Linked DNA regions of Homo sapiens: all the other regions are linked to region 1. Evidence: fine-mapped expression QTL. A gene starts in region 1. Each other region holds a variant in brackets. All regions are shown on one strand. Distances are from middle to middle.

The links. PIP is the estimated chance that this variant, and not a neighbour inherited with it, causes the effect.
Region 2: its variant is fine-mapped to the expression of RGL1 in whole blood (TOPMed, PIP above 0.99).
Region 3: its variant is fine-mapped to the expression of RGL1 in T cells (TOPMed, PIP 0.94).

Annotation. Positions count from the first base shown.
Region 1 is chr1:183,802,854-183,808,082 of GRCh38, forward strand. It overlaps RGL1 (ral guanine nucleotide dissociation stimulator like 1), which reads left to right and starts at 2,267. Exons shown (of 18, transcript NM_001297671.3): 1 at 2,267-2,471; 2 at 3,522-3,632. The coding sequence starts at 2,445. RefSeq lists enhancers at 3,887-3,946, 4,690-4,739.
Region 2 is chr1:183,633,030-183,638,258 of GRCh38, forward strand. It overlaps ARPC5 (actin related protein 2/3 complex subunit 5), which reads right to left and starts at 2,754. Exons shown (of 4, transcript NM_005717.4): 1 at 2,488-2,754; 2 at 53-125. The coding sequence starts at 2,630. It also overlaps a transcript of RGL1 not described here. RefSeq lists enhancers at 1,950-2,450, 2,448-2,727 and silencers at 2,038-2,256, 2,208-2,267, 2,348-2,397, 2,878-3,037. The variant T/C (reference allele first, on the strand shown) is at 3,062.
Region 3 is chr1:183,885,149-183,890,377 of GRCh38, forward strand. It overlaps RGL1 (ral guanine nucleotide dissociation stimulator like 1), which reads left to right. Exons shown (of 18, transcript NM_001297671.3): 8 at 3,326-3,429. Among named protein-coding and RNA genes, the nearest start is that of RGL1, 83 kb to the left of the region's middle. The variant A/G (reference allele first, on the strand shown) is at 3,112.

The DNA.
Region 1 (5,229 bases):
TCTGTTAGGTCACGGGAAGGCTAATGTGGTAAATAAACACCAACTGAGTTATAAATGGCTTACTGGTTTGTCTTCCCACATATTGACCAGGAGTACTTTAACCCAAAGGTACAGGTAATAAGGTAATATGGACTGAACTGCCTACTGATGAAATATTTTTAAATGAATATTAAAAAATTTGTAAACTGCAACACACAATTGCTCTATCTAGCATAAAGTCTGCCTCTTTTTTTGCAGAACAGCATTTGTACAAAATTACATACATTGTGAGGTGTAAATACAAATAGTTATTCTTGGAAAACCTCTCTGAAATTTTAAAGTAATTCCATGAGAAGACATCATTTCAGATTTCCTAGTGTTGCATACATAACACGCTTTTCACTGAGTCTGGATAAATATGGTTTGGGAGGAAGTACAATAAGGAGGCAGTGGAATTTTTTTGGATCACTTACCATGTGCTTGATGATTTGCATGCATTATTTCATTTGATCTCTTTCAAACTCTTTCAGGTAGATGGTTGTCCCATTTTGCAGATGAGGAAATTAAGGCTCAGGGTAGTAGCATTCAGGTTCACTCACTGCAAGGCTGGATGTGAAGCTGTATCCACTTGGCTTGAAGCTAGTTCTTTTCCCTTTACACACTAGGTGGCCAGCCAGGGAATTGGAGTACAGAGAAAGGTGAGTAGCTCTGAAACCTGAGTGGGGCCTTGTGAATTTAAGCCGCCCTGTCCAGGAAGGTTTCCTGGGAGAGTGAGGTTGAAGAAACTGCTTAATATCCCTGAAATGGAAATATTTCAGTTACTGCCAAATGTGTAGCCAAAAATCAGGTTAAAGTAGTGGTGAAGTTAATCTTACAGGTTGTTTAACTGTCCTCAGTTGCATTTCGTGGTGTCCAAGATCACCTAATAGGTCCTCTAGAGGTGGGCCTGGGTTCCTGAGGATGGCTTAACAAGCAGGGAGGTAGGGCCTTCACATGATTTTCCTCTGGTTCCCAGCAACATTCTGCCCTGATCATCATAGAAGGATTTAGTCTATGTGTTTTTCGTTCGTTTGTTTTTTAAATTATAGAACAACCACTTCAGCTTGCTAAAAGGGCATCTCCTCTCTATACAGTGATGGTGCCCTTAGGTTCTGGTTGTATGGGGATAACCTGGCTGAATGACTTGTAGATGTTCTCAAGTGTCCACAGATCCTTTTGTTTTTGCTTAATGTGCCCTTGCTGTCATTTATTCTGCTCTCCTGGGAACATCAGTACACTTGATTTGCTAAATTGTCAGCTCATGATATATTTACCATTAACCAAAACCCAGGCTTATGTCATAGTATGGCAATTAGTGGGAGACCTATTTTTTTTTTTATTTGAAGGTGATTAAATTCATTTAGGGTGAATAGTATGAAAGACATGAGCCCTAAAGGTATTTGCAATTTGCATGGAATTCTGGCAGGTGTCAAGTTTGACTGCATTATCTGGTATCTCTTGCTGTTGACTTGTTAAAACTGGATCTAAAAAAATGTAATAATCTTTTATCCCTATAGCAGATCTTTCCATTATGATAAAACTCCTGCTGGTAGTCATCTGATGAAGAACTTTTCCCTGTGGCTATGATCCTACTGTGTCCCTACAGTACAGGCAACTCAACCCATGGTGGCTACTCACAAAGACTCACAGAACCTCCAGGACACTGTCAGTCCTAGCAAAACCTTACCCTGCTTTGTTCCCTTCCCACCCCCAATGGCCAGTTACTGGGTAATTGGGGTGGTGAAAAGCCCAGCGCGATTTCCTGTTGGCAGTGTGCTGATGCAGGAGAGGGTATAGCCCCTGGGCATGGTTTTGGAATACCCGGGTGTCCTCTGACCTTATCCTCTGTCCTAATGAAAAACTTCCTGGCGTCTAGTATTGCGGCTCTCACTGGGGTCATTCTGACTTAATTATTCTAAAATCAAAATAGATAATAGGCAGATAATGGAAGTTTTTTGGACTTTCTCCTTCCATTGTTTTAGCGAAGGAAGAAGACACACACAAATCCTCCATCCCACACTCAGTTCTATTTTGGCACCTGGTGACCGTCAGGAAAACCTGATAAACTTGAAAGTGTTGTTTCCCAATCACCTTCAGAACTGGAGAAACGCTTTCATGCTGACTTTATCCATGGGACTGAAGAAAGGGAGAGTGTGCTCACAAGCACAAACAGGAAAGCCTTACATCACGGAGTGGCGTGGGGAGGAGTCTGCTCCTCGCTTGCTCGCTCGCTCGCCGCGCTCCCTTTGTGGCCCGAGTCGCGCGCACCGGCGGCGGCGGGGGCAGCGCGGCGCGTGTCTGTGCGCTGCGGTCGCTCGGGACCGGGACCGGGGCGAGGCGCCGCGGGGCTGAGCCCAGCAGACATTGCGTTGGCCTCCGAGCAGGGCGCATCATGCAGCGTTCGCGCACCGGAGAGAAAACTGAGAATGAAATTGCTTTGGCAAGCTAAAATGGTAACGAGAGCTCTCTGCCTTCTCCCGAGGCTTCTCTGGTGGGGAATCTTCTCCCGCTTTCGCTGGGCGTGTTTTGGACTCCCTCGGAGTGAACGGAGCAATCCGATTCCATACTTGTGAGCTAAAGCTCTCTCACTCCGCTTTGTATTCCTCTCTCTCTGCGTGTCTTCTCCCTTTCAACCGTACCTACTTTCTCAGCAATTGCCTGTGGTGTGTCTGGGGCAGATGCATGTCAGGAGGGGAGAACTTTGAAGGAAAAAGAACTGTTAGTGTGGGTGAACCGCGGAGCGCTTCTGCGTCCCAGCGGCTCTTTAACACAAACCTCAGGTTTAGCTGGGGACATGGAAATCCAGGGGGTCGCTGCACAGATTTTAGTAGAAGCTGCCTGATGATGTGTTGCTTTTTCTGCACTTGCCAGATTATTTTACGGAAATAAAAACTTTCCACCCCCGCTAACTTTGTGGGCTCCAAAACAATGAGGAGAAAAGACAAGCAAACCACTTCACTTCCAAAGGAGTGAGGACTCTTGGCGTTTTAAACACTTGTTTGTGTCTGAGTTTAAAATCTGGTTTCTTCAATGACCGAGCCACTCTAAAAAGTACAGACTTATTCTTTTCTTTTTTTCTTTTTCTTTTTCTTTTCTTTTCTTTTTTTTTTTTTTTTTTTTTTTTTTTTTTTTTTTTTTTTACAAAGAATTATTTTTCCTTTCACTTAAGGGGGACAAGTTAATCAGGACTAATCTAGTTTCTTTGTAAAGAAAAAGAAAGACTTCAAAACAAAACTATTTAAGATATGTGAGCAAGTCTAGGAGAAATAACTAAATGGAAAAGTCAGGGGATCCTGATACCACAGGAAGGGACTGCAAGCCAAGAAAATCTCAGCATTCCCTCTATCAAAATGTGTCTTGTATTGCGGATTGTAATATTTATTTTGAACAGCCCATCTTGTGCCCTGAGTGCTGTTGTAAGCAGCAAGGCAGCTGGGATAGATTGTGGTTAGCAGAGAGGAAAAAAATACTCTTTTTCTTTCTCTTTATCCCGTCCCTGGCAGAGCTCGATTCAGGACTGGGGTGAAGAGGTAGAGGAAGGAGCTGTTTACCATGTCACCCTCAAAAGAGTCCAGATTCAACAGGCTGCCAATAAAGGAGCAAGATGGCTAGGGGTGAGTAAAGCTGGCGAGATGGTGAACTTTGGAATTTCAGTGTCTGTCGTTCTGTGAATATCATTATTATTTAACAGAGGCAGGCTTTTTTTTTTTTCCTCTTTTCGCTTTAAAAAGGAAAATGCTAATGACCAAGTGTTTGCACTAGCTGAACAGGTCTCTTTTTGTATTTAATGTTTTCAAAAGCATCTTCCCTAGGTTTGTCAATAATTCAGAACCTCTTAGAAACATCTTGAGGTCTTTGGCAAATAGATTGGGGGTGGAGTGGCAGAAAATGACACACAGAATACAGGCCCAGAGAGCAGCACTCTCTTAGACAAGAGCCATAAGCAGCTTTGCCCAGAAGCCACCCTTGTCTCTCTCTGCCCTCCCCCAATTGATGCTGTCAGCGTCTGCCTTGCTCCTATATCTCTAGGAGGTACCCAGATTGCTCAGGAGACAGAGCATTCCAAGTCTGCATCCTTTGAGGGGTGGTAGATTTCCTATTGTGATCTCTTTTCTATATCTTGGGAGGAGGCAAATGGATGCTTAGTACCCACTACTTTGTGTGTAGAGTGGTGGGCCTTTGGAAAAATGCTGCTTCTGTAAACAGGACTCTTTTCCACTGAGATTGTAAAATATTGGGTGAGGTCATGCAAGTTTGTAGGTATCACCTAGTAGATCCTTCAACACATCCCAAATAAAGCGAATATGAGAAATGGAAAGCTCAGCGACAGGATCACTACTTGGGCAAATGTCAAACATGTGGAAGAATGAAGGGATTCTTGATCTGGAAGGAGAAGTAGTTCTCAGACCAGGCGGTGAGAGGCGACCCAAAAAGCCTTGAGAAAGAAAATAATGGTTGGCTGAATAGAGGGGGTGGAGTGTGATTTCACCTGGCTGGCCTTATTTTAGCCGATGGGCTTCAGAGTGTTGAAGATTTATGCACTTGCATCCCATCTTTAGCGGCTTGGAGTCTCTGAAAATTCAGAATATTTTGAGCAGCATTCAAAGGTGGAGTGTGAAGGAGGATAGGACACAAAATTGCACAGGGCCTCCTGTTAAGAGTAGTGGTAACGTGTGACTTGTAACTCCAGGGAGTTTAAGGCAGGATGGTGGCCCATGGCCGGCAGCAATCACTTCCTCTGCCATGAGTCTGCTGACACAGGCATTCATTGCTTTGGGCTTCCCCAGCTGCTTCAGCTCAGGCCTTTCCTGCTACTGTACTTTGGGCCAAGGTATCACCCATGAGGGCCAGAAATTGTTAATGACATCTGCAGGTGTGGTCTGGAAAGATAGGAGCTTTCCAGTGAGAACTAGAGGTCTTCACTTACCAAGTACCTACCTTACTCAGAATATGATTTTAAAATTAATTATGTATATCACTAGCAGACCTGATAGGGAAAGCAGAACTAGAGTTCTGACAAGTCATCACTTTGTTTTTGGTGGTTGTGTGTATGTATTTTATTTAAATGTGGCGTCCATGTGGTTTGGCCTCTAGCTATTTCAGAATGATTCACAACTTCTGAACCAGTTGTCTTCAAAAGGGTCATTACATTTTTTTGGTATCAGGTTATTCCTCTCTTTCTAATGAGACTGACTTTGCTTGGGTGACTGT
Region 2 (5,229 bases), 170 kb before region 1:
TACTAAGAATAAGATATCAGCAGAGATCACTGTGTTGTAGTCTGCGACTCACCTTCACTGCCTGACTCTTGGTGTTGATAGGGGGGTTCTTCAGAGCTGCCTGTAGGGCAGCTGTCATGTTTCCTGTGATGGAAGTTAAGGGTGTAACAGCAAAGGATGGCCCCCAGGAAAGCATTATAACCACTGGTTCTTATGACTTGATTTACATATAAAAAGAAAATTACTTTGGTCACTATGTTCAATACTGGAAATTCAATGTGTTGGTTTCCAGGATGTTAATCAAAGGCAAAATATCAAAAGCAAAATAGAACATTAGACTTTTTTTTAATAAAGCAAAGACTGTTTCACCCTTGGTTCTAACTATCAAGTGAACACCTTGATAGTCTTTCATTTCCCAGTGAGATACATATGCAAACATTACCTAGAGTGGTGTTAAAGAAATCCTAAAATATATATCAGAATTATTAGTCCCCCAAATGAAATAACCTATTATCAACCAAAATATGTCTTTTCCTGTGATTCTAATTGAAAAAATAAAGACCAAACTTTTGCTAGAACCATATTCTGTATTATCTGAAATGCTGGTAGAACATGCTGGCAGATTAGCAATCTGAATGATACACATTAGCAATCTCTCAATATTGATGAAAAGAGGCATCACAGAAGATGTAATAATTCATATGTCCCTTAGGTGGCAGCTTAATTTTTTGCTTTAGATATTTTCTCTCATATTTCACAAAGGTTATTCAAACTGTGTTAGACCATACCTATTAAATTCAGGCTCTCTTTGAAAGCACTAGTGAGTTAGCAAGCATGAGAAACAGAAGGCCAATCAGACTGTCAGAATGTACAAACATTCCCCTAAAAGGAAAACCACAGAGTTCACTTGTTCCTCCAACTCTAGTACCCCACCACTAGGGCTGTCTTTCCTGGCTGTATGTAACGGTAAGAAGAGACAGTATCTTTATATTTTAAGATGAACTGATCAAAAAGCAGATCCACTGATATGGATACAGCAGTACCATTTAAAAGTCACCACAAATTACCTAAAATACACTGGGGTTTCATAAAACACCATCTATCCATCACAAATAATGTTTTTAGGAAGCATGTTCACCATTTATTTTCTAAAGAAAAAGTTCTTACACAAAATCTCTGGTTGACAAGCTGTTATTTTCAAGGCTGCAGGGATTTCTAGAGAAGCATGCCTGATGTAGATTAGCTCATTTTTTATAACTCCAAGCACTTAAGTATTTAAATAATGCAAAAGAGCAACAGCTAATTAATTGTGAAAGTTGTGGCAAAGCACTATCTATATATTGATAAATGTCTAATGCTCTATTTAGGTGCCTTTAAAAAAGGATATTGTTGCCATTAAATATTTTCACTCTCATATTTCCCCACTATAACAGGACATTGTTGAGAGTCTTCCTTATGAATACACCCAAGAATTAGAAATGCATACAAATTCAGTGTCTGAGATTTTCTAAAACTACAGCTTCGGTTTTTTTGCAACATTTACATTTTTCTAAAAAAGATGTAATGCAAATGCGAAGCCAAAGTTATGAATATTCAAATATGCAAAAACAGAAACCGGGAACTGACTGCCATATTTTAACTAAAATGGAAACAATTTTAGGATTACAAAAATGATTCTGCTTTATACGAATGACTCATCTTCTATCTTATTCATTGGGGTTTATTTTAAATATTTCCAAGGATTCTCCACACGCATTCCCCGTTGTTTTTTCTATTGTCCTTTTCTTAGCAGGTAAAAGGCTCCAAGCTTCCTTCTAGGAGTTTTGTATTTTTTGTATTCATTCCCCTCCCCCAGTTAACAAATTCTGTACAATGTATATTTTGCCAAATCCCCTTCTTCTTCTTCTTTTTTTTTTTTTTTTAAAAAGGCCAATGGGCTGAAAGCACAGGGACCCTCAATTTTCGAACAGTCCCATCTCCCCCCGCCCCCCGGTAAGGAATAAACTACCTTAACGCTACCAATAACAAAAACACAACAAAAAACAAAACCACTAAGGAAAGATGCAGGTTCCCCACAATCAGAAATTTCTGGAGCTAATGTGACCCCAGGAAATCAGAGTTCTAGGAAGAAAAACTAAGGCGCTCGGCACCAGCCTTCCCCACCAGCCGGGGCCGCCTTCCCCAGCGCCGCGAGGGCGCGGCCGGCGGGACCAGTTCCCGAGGCAGGCAGGCACTCGGGTGCAACCTGAGGAATCTGGGGGCGTGGAAGGCGCGCGGGGGAGGGCAGGCTTCCAAGAGTGGGACCCTCGCGTCTCCTGCCGACTGGGTAGGAAACGGGGGCTTCCCCCTTGCCCTCTCAGAGCGGGCGATCCCAAAGAGACAGGTTAAGCCGCAGGTTGAGAGGGCAGCTCCGCGCCGGTGCCCCGCGGATCCTGCAGGCTCCCGGGTCCCAGGAGAAGGGCGGGCTGGGCTGGGCTGGGGTGGGGAGGGCGGTGAATGCAAGGATATTGCCGCAGGCAGGAGTCCACCTCGCCCTCGTCGGGCCCGGCCTGGCCGTCGCCCCCATCTTCTTCGTCCACGAACTTGTTCTCGTCATATTCATCCACGTCCACCTTCCGGAAGCGGGCCGACGACACTGTGTTCTTCGACATCCCAATCCCGACCAGCGGCAAAGGCCTCTTCTTGGCGCTGCCTCTACCTCAGCAAGCCCAGCCCAGCAACCCACTACCCGGCGCCTGATTCACTTCCCTCTTCCGCTCTGAGGCGTCGCCGACTGCCGCGGCTCGGACCGTTCTGGGCCTGCGCGCTAGCCCCGTTTCTTCCTCCTCAGGTTCGCGCTCCCTTGGCGCCTCCCACGCTGCCCCTGCTCTTCCACGGAGAGCGCGCGCGAGGGAAGGAGCGCGCAGGACACAGCGCGCAGGCGCGGGCTCTCCGCAGGCAAGGGGCGGGGCTGGGCGAAGGAGGCGGGGGCGAGAGGGAGGGCCAAAAGCTGGACCGCGGGCAGAGGTAAGAAGCGATTGGTCGTCCGATTGCGTCACGTGATTCTCGGTGGGGGGGTTCCCATAGAAACGCTTTTCTGCGG[T/C]CCAGTCTAGGGGGTCTCAGATTGGCGGGGATGGGCAGCAGCGGCAGGTGGCCTTGGCTTTTGCTGCAGCCGTCAACGACCTATCATCGGGGTCCTGCGTAAGGTCCGGCTGGCTGGGACTTGGCTGTGGGTGGGATGGACTGGCTGCCGGACCGAGTGCCCTGCAGTTGGTAGGAGTATGAGGCAGAGTGATGCACACCCGGGCGCCCAGCATCGTTCTAATTGCCGGAGACATTGCCTCAGACTGTGCGCTGCTAGAGGCTGCGTTCCTGAGCAGGAAGCCCGTTTCCTGGGATTGGAACTACCCTTCTTGGCCAGCGGGAAGTCCCCAAGGACGGAGTCGAAAGGTCAAATCTTATCTGTCAGTGCTGTGTGACAGCATCGCAACGGGATCTGCAGAACCTGAACTCGGTATCAAATCTATTGGGAGGGAGGGGAACGTGTCCGGGCAGGCGCTGGGGTCGGGTGGCAAAACTGGGGTGAATTTGTAGAATTTGGGAAAGGGTCATTGACATCTTAAAATAGGTGGTCGTTTGGAGCAAGAATGCTCGAAAGGGGTGAGGGTAGGTTAGGCTCTCTAGTGCTGGGGGAAAACAAAATGTGGAAGGATTGGTGGAAACCAGACCTTTAAGATTTATATTATGATTTGAGATTTATATGATTCCATCTAGGCCAGATTTAAAAAAATATTTGACATCCCCATTTCTGGAATGTAGGAGATAAAGGCACTAAGACGAAGGAAATGGTAGTTGTGCTGTGTGTATTACACTGAAGAACAAATATTTGCAGGATAAAATTAATTTGGACATTTGGCTGGACACTGCTCGGTATGGGTCCAGTTTAGTTGGACCTCGAGCAGAAGACTGGCTGTTGCCCTGTTGTGTACCACAATCTTTGGTTTCCAGTGCTGTGTTGAAAAGAGCACTAGGCTTAGAATCAGAAAACTCAGGCTTAAGTGTTGACTCTTCCACTCATAATGTTTGAACGAGACATGTCACTTAAAATTCTGTCTCAGATTCCTCATCACTGAAATGGAGCTAATAATGTGCACTTTACAAGATTGTTCTTAGGATTATATATCACGAAAGTGTTTCCAAGCTCTAAAATTCTACATAAATGTAAAATGCATGTTGCTTGTACCATTGGTTTTGGGACTAGTCTTATAAATTTCTTAATGATATATGGTGTTTTATCTCCTTCCTAGAAGAGATGGAAAGATTCTGAAGGGCAGAAACAGTTTTTCTTTTGTATCTTCCTTCCATATGACAAAAAGCTAAGCATGCAGAAGGGACTCGATACATGCTTGATGAATGAATGAAATGTGAAAGACCGTACAGTTTGAGAATCATACTGAGAATAATAAATCAGAAGAGGGAGAGAGATCTCAAAATTAAATATTTGTTGGATATATACATGTAAATACATATGTCCAGTCTTCTTTAAGTTCAAAAAAATACATATATAATGTGTGTATATTTATCTATGCAGTATATTATATATAAATAGAGAGTGGGAGAGAGACCTCGAGAATGGAATACATCCCTTTTTCTTGGGAAGAAGCAATGTGGTGTTTTTCTGTTCCCAATTAAACCACTCTTCTATAAGTATATCATTTAGGTGATAGAAGTAACATTGTTTAAATTAACATTCAAGTTATGAACACACACTGGTAAAAATTCTCTTAGGAATGCCTTAAGACAGCAAAGGAAAAATTTTTACCTGTTGGCAATATTTATTTTAAAAAGCCATATACCAAAGTATAAAATCATTACTATGGTGAATGGCGTTATATAACTTAGAATAAAGATTTTACAATTTTTTTTCAGTTTCAGTCTTTGCTAACTTTAGTAGATGCTAATCAGTATACTTTAGCTGTTAAAGGTGATTGTACTTTTTCTTCTTTTAAATCAAGATTTTTCTTTGAAGAGAAAATCGAACATTAGAGGCACTATTGACAGCAAATGGAAACAGGGATTCAAGAGCTAATATATCTCTTCTCTTACATTTCTATTCTTTTGTATTGCCTTATTTAGGAAATTTTTTATTTTCTTATTTGAGAACTATGAAAGAATCCCAGAGTAGAAATCAGCTTAAGGGAATAGTGAAAGAAATTTAAATAATCGATTGCTCAAGGGTATAATTATTTTGATTGCTCAGAATTTTGCTCT
Region 3 (5,229 bases), 82 kb after region 1:
GGACCCCTGCTCACTTCTTCCCAGTTATGGGCTCTCACACTGCTACCTCTCTAGAGTGAGACATTCTGTCTGCTTTCCCCTTTGTATTCACGACAAGACTGAGTGTTGGTTTCAGCACCATGTTCAGTAAATATAAATGTATGGTCTGCATGTCAAAACAGACTGCCCTTCAACCCAGAGTGATTACCTATGCCCCCTCCCAGTACCTGGAGGCATTACATCTTCTGCAGTTTTGAAGAGCTGGTACTTCTTCAGAGTCCTGAATCTCTTTTCTAAAGGACTGAGACACTTACAGAGATCTCATATTAATCTGAGGTCATGTCTCATATTAATCTGAAGTTGGAGGGGAGGAGTCTGTTCCTAGGCCTGACTCACATTCTTCTGAGTGTTGGAGTCTAGTCTCTTGGATGAACTGCTTACATACCATAGGACCTCCCCTTCTCAGCATCTTATCTCATGACTGAGAAAATGGCAACAGTGTGCAGTCAGTGGGCCACCAAATATTTTGTGAACTTCTAATGTGTGTAAACCACAATATTCTGTACTTAGGGGACATACTAGGATAGAGCATAATTATTTGTTTGCAGGAACCCGTACACAAACAAGGAAGCTAAGATATACTGGAATTATCTCAGCCTGAGACAGTAGAGGAGTAGGGCCATGGGAGATAAGCACTGTAAAAGTGGGGGAGAGAGAAATCATTTCTGATGGGATGATCAAGGAAGGTTTCATGGATGAATTGACATTTGAAATTAACTTTGAGTAACAGATAGGATTTTTGGTATTTGAAGATTAGAGAGGTTTTTTTTTTTCTAGGCAAAAGAAATTACATCAGCAAAATAATGATTTTGAAAAATTATTAATATGAAAATATCATATTAATTTGTGTTCTGGGCTCTATGGGTAAACTCTCAACCAAAACACATTTTGCTTTATGTCCCCTTAAATATATTTTTCCTTGAGCCCCTATTGATAGGGCATAATGTTACATTCTCTTTTGCTGTCTTTGATTAAAGAGCAGAGACACAATTGTGCCAGATAATTTGCCTTGAGTCTTCAGGTGGTCTGTTATTACAGACTTCTTAGTGTATTATGAAAGTCAGCAAGAAACAAAGAGTGTAAGTTGCATAAACAACTTCTATTTCTCCTATTCTAAATCGAGCTTATTGCTCAGCAAGTAAGAGATACAAAAGAAGTTGTGAGTGAGATATAGTGTAGAAGTTCTCTGTTTTTTTAGAATGATAAGGAATTATTTTTTTTTTTGCCATAAGTGTCACAGCATGTCTCAAAAGCAGACTGTCTACCCCTAATTCATTCAACTACTTTGGCTATAGTGACAATATAGCATCTGTGTATGTGACATAGTGGGGCTCAAGCGATGACTTTTGGTCCAAATTGAATGTAAATTGTGCATTTATGTAGTAATAAGAAATGCAAGTTGAATCATTTGAAGTATATTTCAAATCCCATATCATGTGCTAATAAAGCCAAGGGCTCTTACTTTTTTTTTGGTGATATCACTTCCTAATACTGAGTATGTTGTATCTTTTACAATTGTGTAGGGAAATGTAATAAAATAATGAGGCTTACCAGTGGTTTGCTACCAAGATTTATTTTACCTTTCCTGCATTCATCGTAGTCAATTTCTATTGAAAGGATATTTGAAAAAGAAAATTTTTCTGACCTAATATGACTATATTTTCTTGGACTGCCCTTAATGGTATGTTTTTACTTTTGCATCACATCTCCTGGAAGATGCCTCTTTTTCTAGAAATGGGACCAGATGCCTTTTGTACTCCTTTAAACCCTTAGTTTAAACCTCTTTTTGAATAATGTGTTCCATGTGTTTATTTCAATTTGCATGATGTATCTGTTCCTGAGTTCCTTTTTTTATTGCAAGTTTCCTGATTTTTAGAATATAACTTTTGTGAACCTTTGTTGAACCATGCTCCCATAGGCTTAGTTTCCAGATTGCAATTCAGAACATTTCTCTTGTTCTCTCTCTCTTCCCCTCCCTCCCTCCCTCTTTTCCTCCCTCCCTCCCTCCTTCCCCTCCTTCTTCTCTCTTTCTCTTTATATCTTTCCAAATAAGGGGAGGACATTGAGGCATTTAAAAAGGGTGGACATGACTTTTATTAAGTACTTTGGCATTTACTCTAAAGAAAATGTTTGAGGGTTTGTTTGGCATAGTTTTCAGTGTCCAGATTTTGGCATGCTAAATTAGAGTGCTGTTTTTCCTTCGTATTCAGGATTAACATTTCTTTGTGAAATGATTCTCGAAGTGATTTACATTTATGCCCAATCACTCTGGGACTTCTTACCTGAGATACTCTACACAAAACCAAATACGTGCTCACATGGTGTACTCACTTGTAAACACTGGGCCTAGTACGCTGTCATGTGCCTGTATATGAAGCATCTCCTTTGACATAAGGCCTGGTCCAGTCTCCTCACGTTGCTACCTTCCCCATGCCAGCCAAGAATGGGACTTTCTCCCTGTCTGTTTTGCTGTCCCTGCTATTCAGTCACAGGACTTTGACTCCAAGGTCACTAACTGCTGATGCTACAGGCTCCTTATGGTAGCTTAAGTTTAAATAGGGAGCCTCTCTCCTTACCCAGAAAATGGCATCCAGAATGTTTCCTGTTCTCTTTCTATTTTGTTTTAAAACATTGCCAAAATGAATTTTATTTTAAAAGGCCGAGTTATTTTGGAAGCATTGAAGTACCAAGGTGTTTTTGAATGTTTATGGTTGCAGGACAAGCCAATTTGAAACCAAATGAATGTGTATAAAAATATCCCCCCTTGGCTAAGAGCATAAAAGCCAAAGTTCAACTTGTGGTGAATTTTTATTGCCAAATTATATACACCTCTGTGGACAAGGGTTGGTGATGAGATGTTCAATACCATCTGACCTCAAAGTGGCTGCTGCCCAGCTCATTTTGGGATCTAAAGAAGATCTAAAGTGCATATTTTTAGGACATCTGTGTGCTTTCAGCAGAAGAAAGTTGCTCTTTCTAGCATAGCTCTGTAGACTTACCTCCATTAGTGTTTTTACTAGGAAAGCTGGAAACTATAAAACTGTAACAACAACACAAAAAAATATATTGACG[A/G]GAGAAAAACAAGCATACTGTGCCAAAATCTATAAAGTGTTTCGATGACTGGGGTGGGAGGAAGGAGCCACTTTTTGATGTTCACTATTTATACAGCTGCCTATTTTGTGGTAAGAATTCATAGCAGCTGTGATACCTCTAAAACAGGAAACCACCAAGTCATTGTAATATTGATAGTTAAATGCCTTTTATGTTTTAATCACTCCCCATGCAGGAATGTAGACTCCTGAAGAATTTTTCCTCCTTGAGGGCCATCGTTTCGGCACTGCAGTCTAATTCCATCTATCGGTTAAAAAAGACTTGGGCTGCCGTCCCAAGGTAAGTTCCCAAGTGTTTGCTCTGCTTTTCTTTGGCCGGGATAATTAGTGGTTGTGATGAGTCCTCACCTTCAAAGCTTGTATCGCATAACTAGAGAAACATATTTGAAATCCTCTGTGTGTTTCAGGCAGGGTGCATCTTACACATAATCATTAATGACTTTTGAGGCAGGGCTCCTGCAGAAATCAAACTCATTCTAAGTATACCAAAGCCAAGATTATTGGCTTTGGGGATGATTTGAAGGATGTGCTTATTATCTGGATTTTGAGGGATAAGGTTGTGGAGTGATGAAGTTACAGCAATTTGCCATTACTTCTGGTTATTTTTCAGCCTCACTACAAAGCCCTAAGCTATTTTAGGACTCAAGGGGTAATGTGTGCAGATAGGACATTAGTTCTTGATGTTCAGTAGGAAACTATTTAGTTGTCCTTTTAGTTTCAGCATTTTAAAAACTATCTTATTGGCATTAAAAACCTTTAAATGTTCTTTCCTAAGTACCTGAAATTATTAACTGGCCACATCCTATGCTGTTTTTCTTCATATTTCTTGGTGCAACCGTTGGAATAATTAACAACTTGGTTTCCTGATTTTTGCACTACTGCCATCACTTCCATTTCCGGAACTTCACTGTAGATCAAAGAACTTTGTGCAAAGGAAGGAAAGGTGAGGGAGGGGGCAGTTCTGATTCTCTGTCACTACAGATTTAGAGGCTGGGGATTGTGTCATGAGTACAACTAGGCCAGCTACATTCAACAAGTTTGCCCAGGTTTGAACTAGTCAGGAAGTTAGGCTATATCAGGGAAGAATCTATAAATTCTGTATGGTCTATACCACATGTGGTATAGTCAGTTTCAGTTAGGAGGAGAGGGATGCCAGCTGGCTTCCCAGCCAGGCTGCCTTAGTGGGGCAGAATGGAAGGTCTGGGTCCTCAGTTTCATAAGTTTACTCAGAGTTGATCAAGCCCTAAGAGACTGGCATTGTTTGAATTTGCAAGAGCCCCAAGCTGGTAAACCAGAGTTTCATAAATTTATGCTGAAAAATGAGTGCCAGAATCCTCAAGCTTGCTGATAAGCTCATATTCTCGTTCAGGGGATAGTCTACTTGGTGTAAGCCAAATTATTTATTAGGTGATTCTTTGATGGGTAAAAAGAAAAAAATAAAGTGGATGTTTATAATGCCTCATGTTACAGAGCTGTAGAAGCCACAGCTACTTGCACTCCAAAGCTCGTGCTTTGTTTATGACATCAATATTTATCAGTAGAAGAACTAGCAGGCTTTTCAAAGACCAATGCAATTTTCTTGATTATTATTCTTTTTTTAGGTTCTTTCTTCTCTATTTTGAATAATCAAGGTGATTGTGTGTATTAAAGAGAGATTAGTTGGTTGATTTTCCTCTGCACATTTCTCCTTAAGAACGATGGGGTCATATAAAATCATTACTTGATAGGCCCTGGTGAAATGCGATGGGAAAATCAGAAGCATGCAGTGTCCCCACCCTTCACACCTCCACTTCACCTCTTCTTTCCCTTACCACCACTCTCCACTCAACTGTAGTATAGTATCAAAAACAAAGGGACAGTCAAGTGTTAAAATGTAGCCTTACTCAATTGATTGCAACCTTGTCTGATTGCCACGAAAGGTAATCCTTTCTTTGATGGTTGAAAAAAGAACACTAAGGAAAGTCACGTAACCAGCCTAAGATTTCTTCCACAGCAAGTTTGAGACTAAAACATGAGCAAAAAAAATTAATGGACTTGTATCTTAGTCTCCTTGGCTGCCATATGAAAAGATTTATTCTAG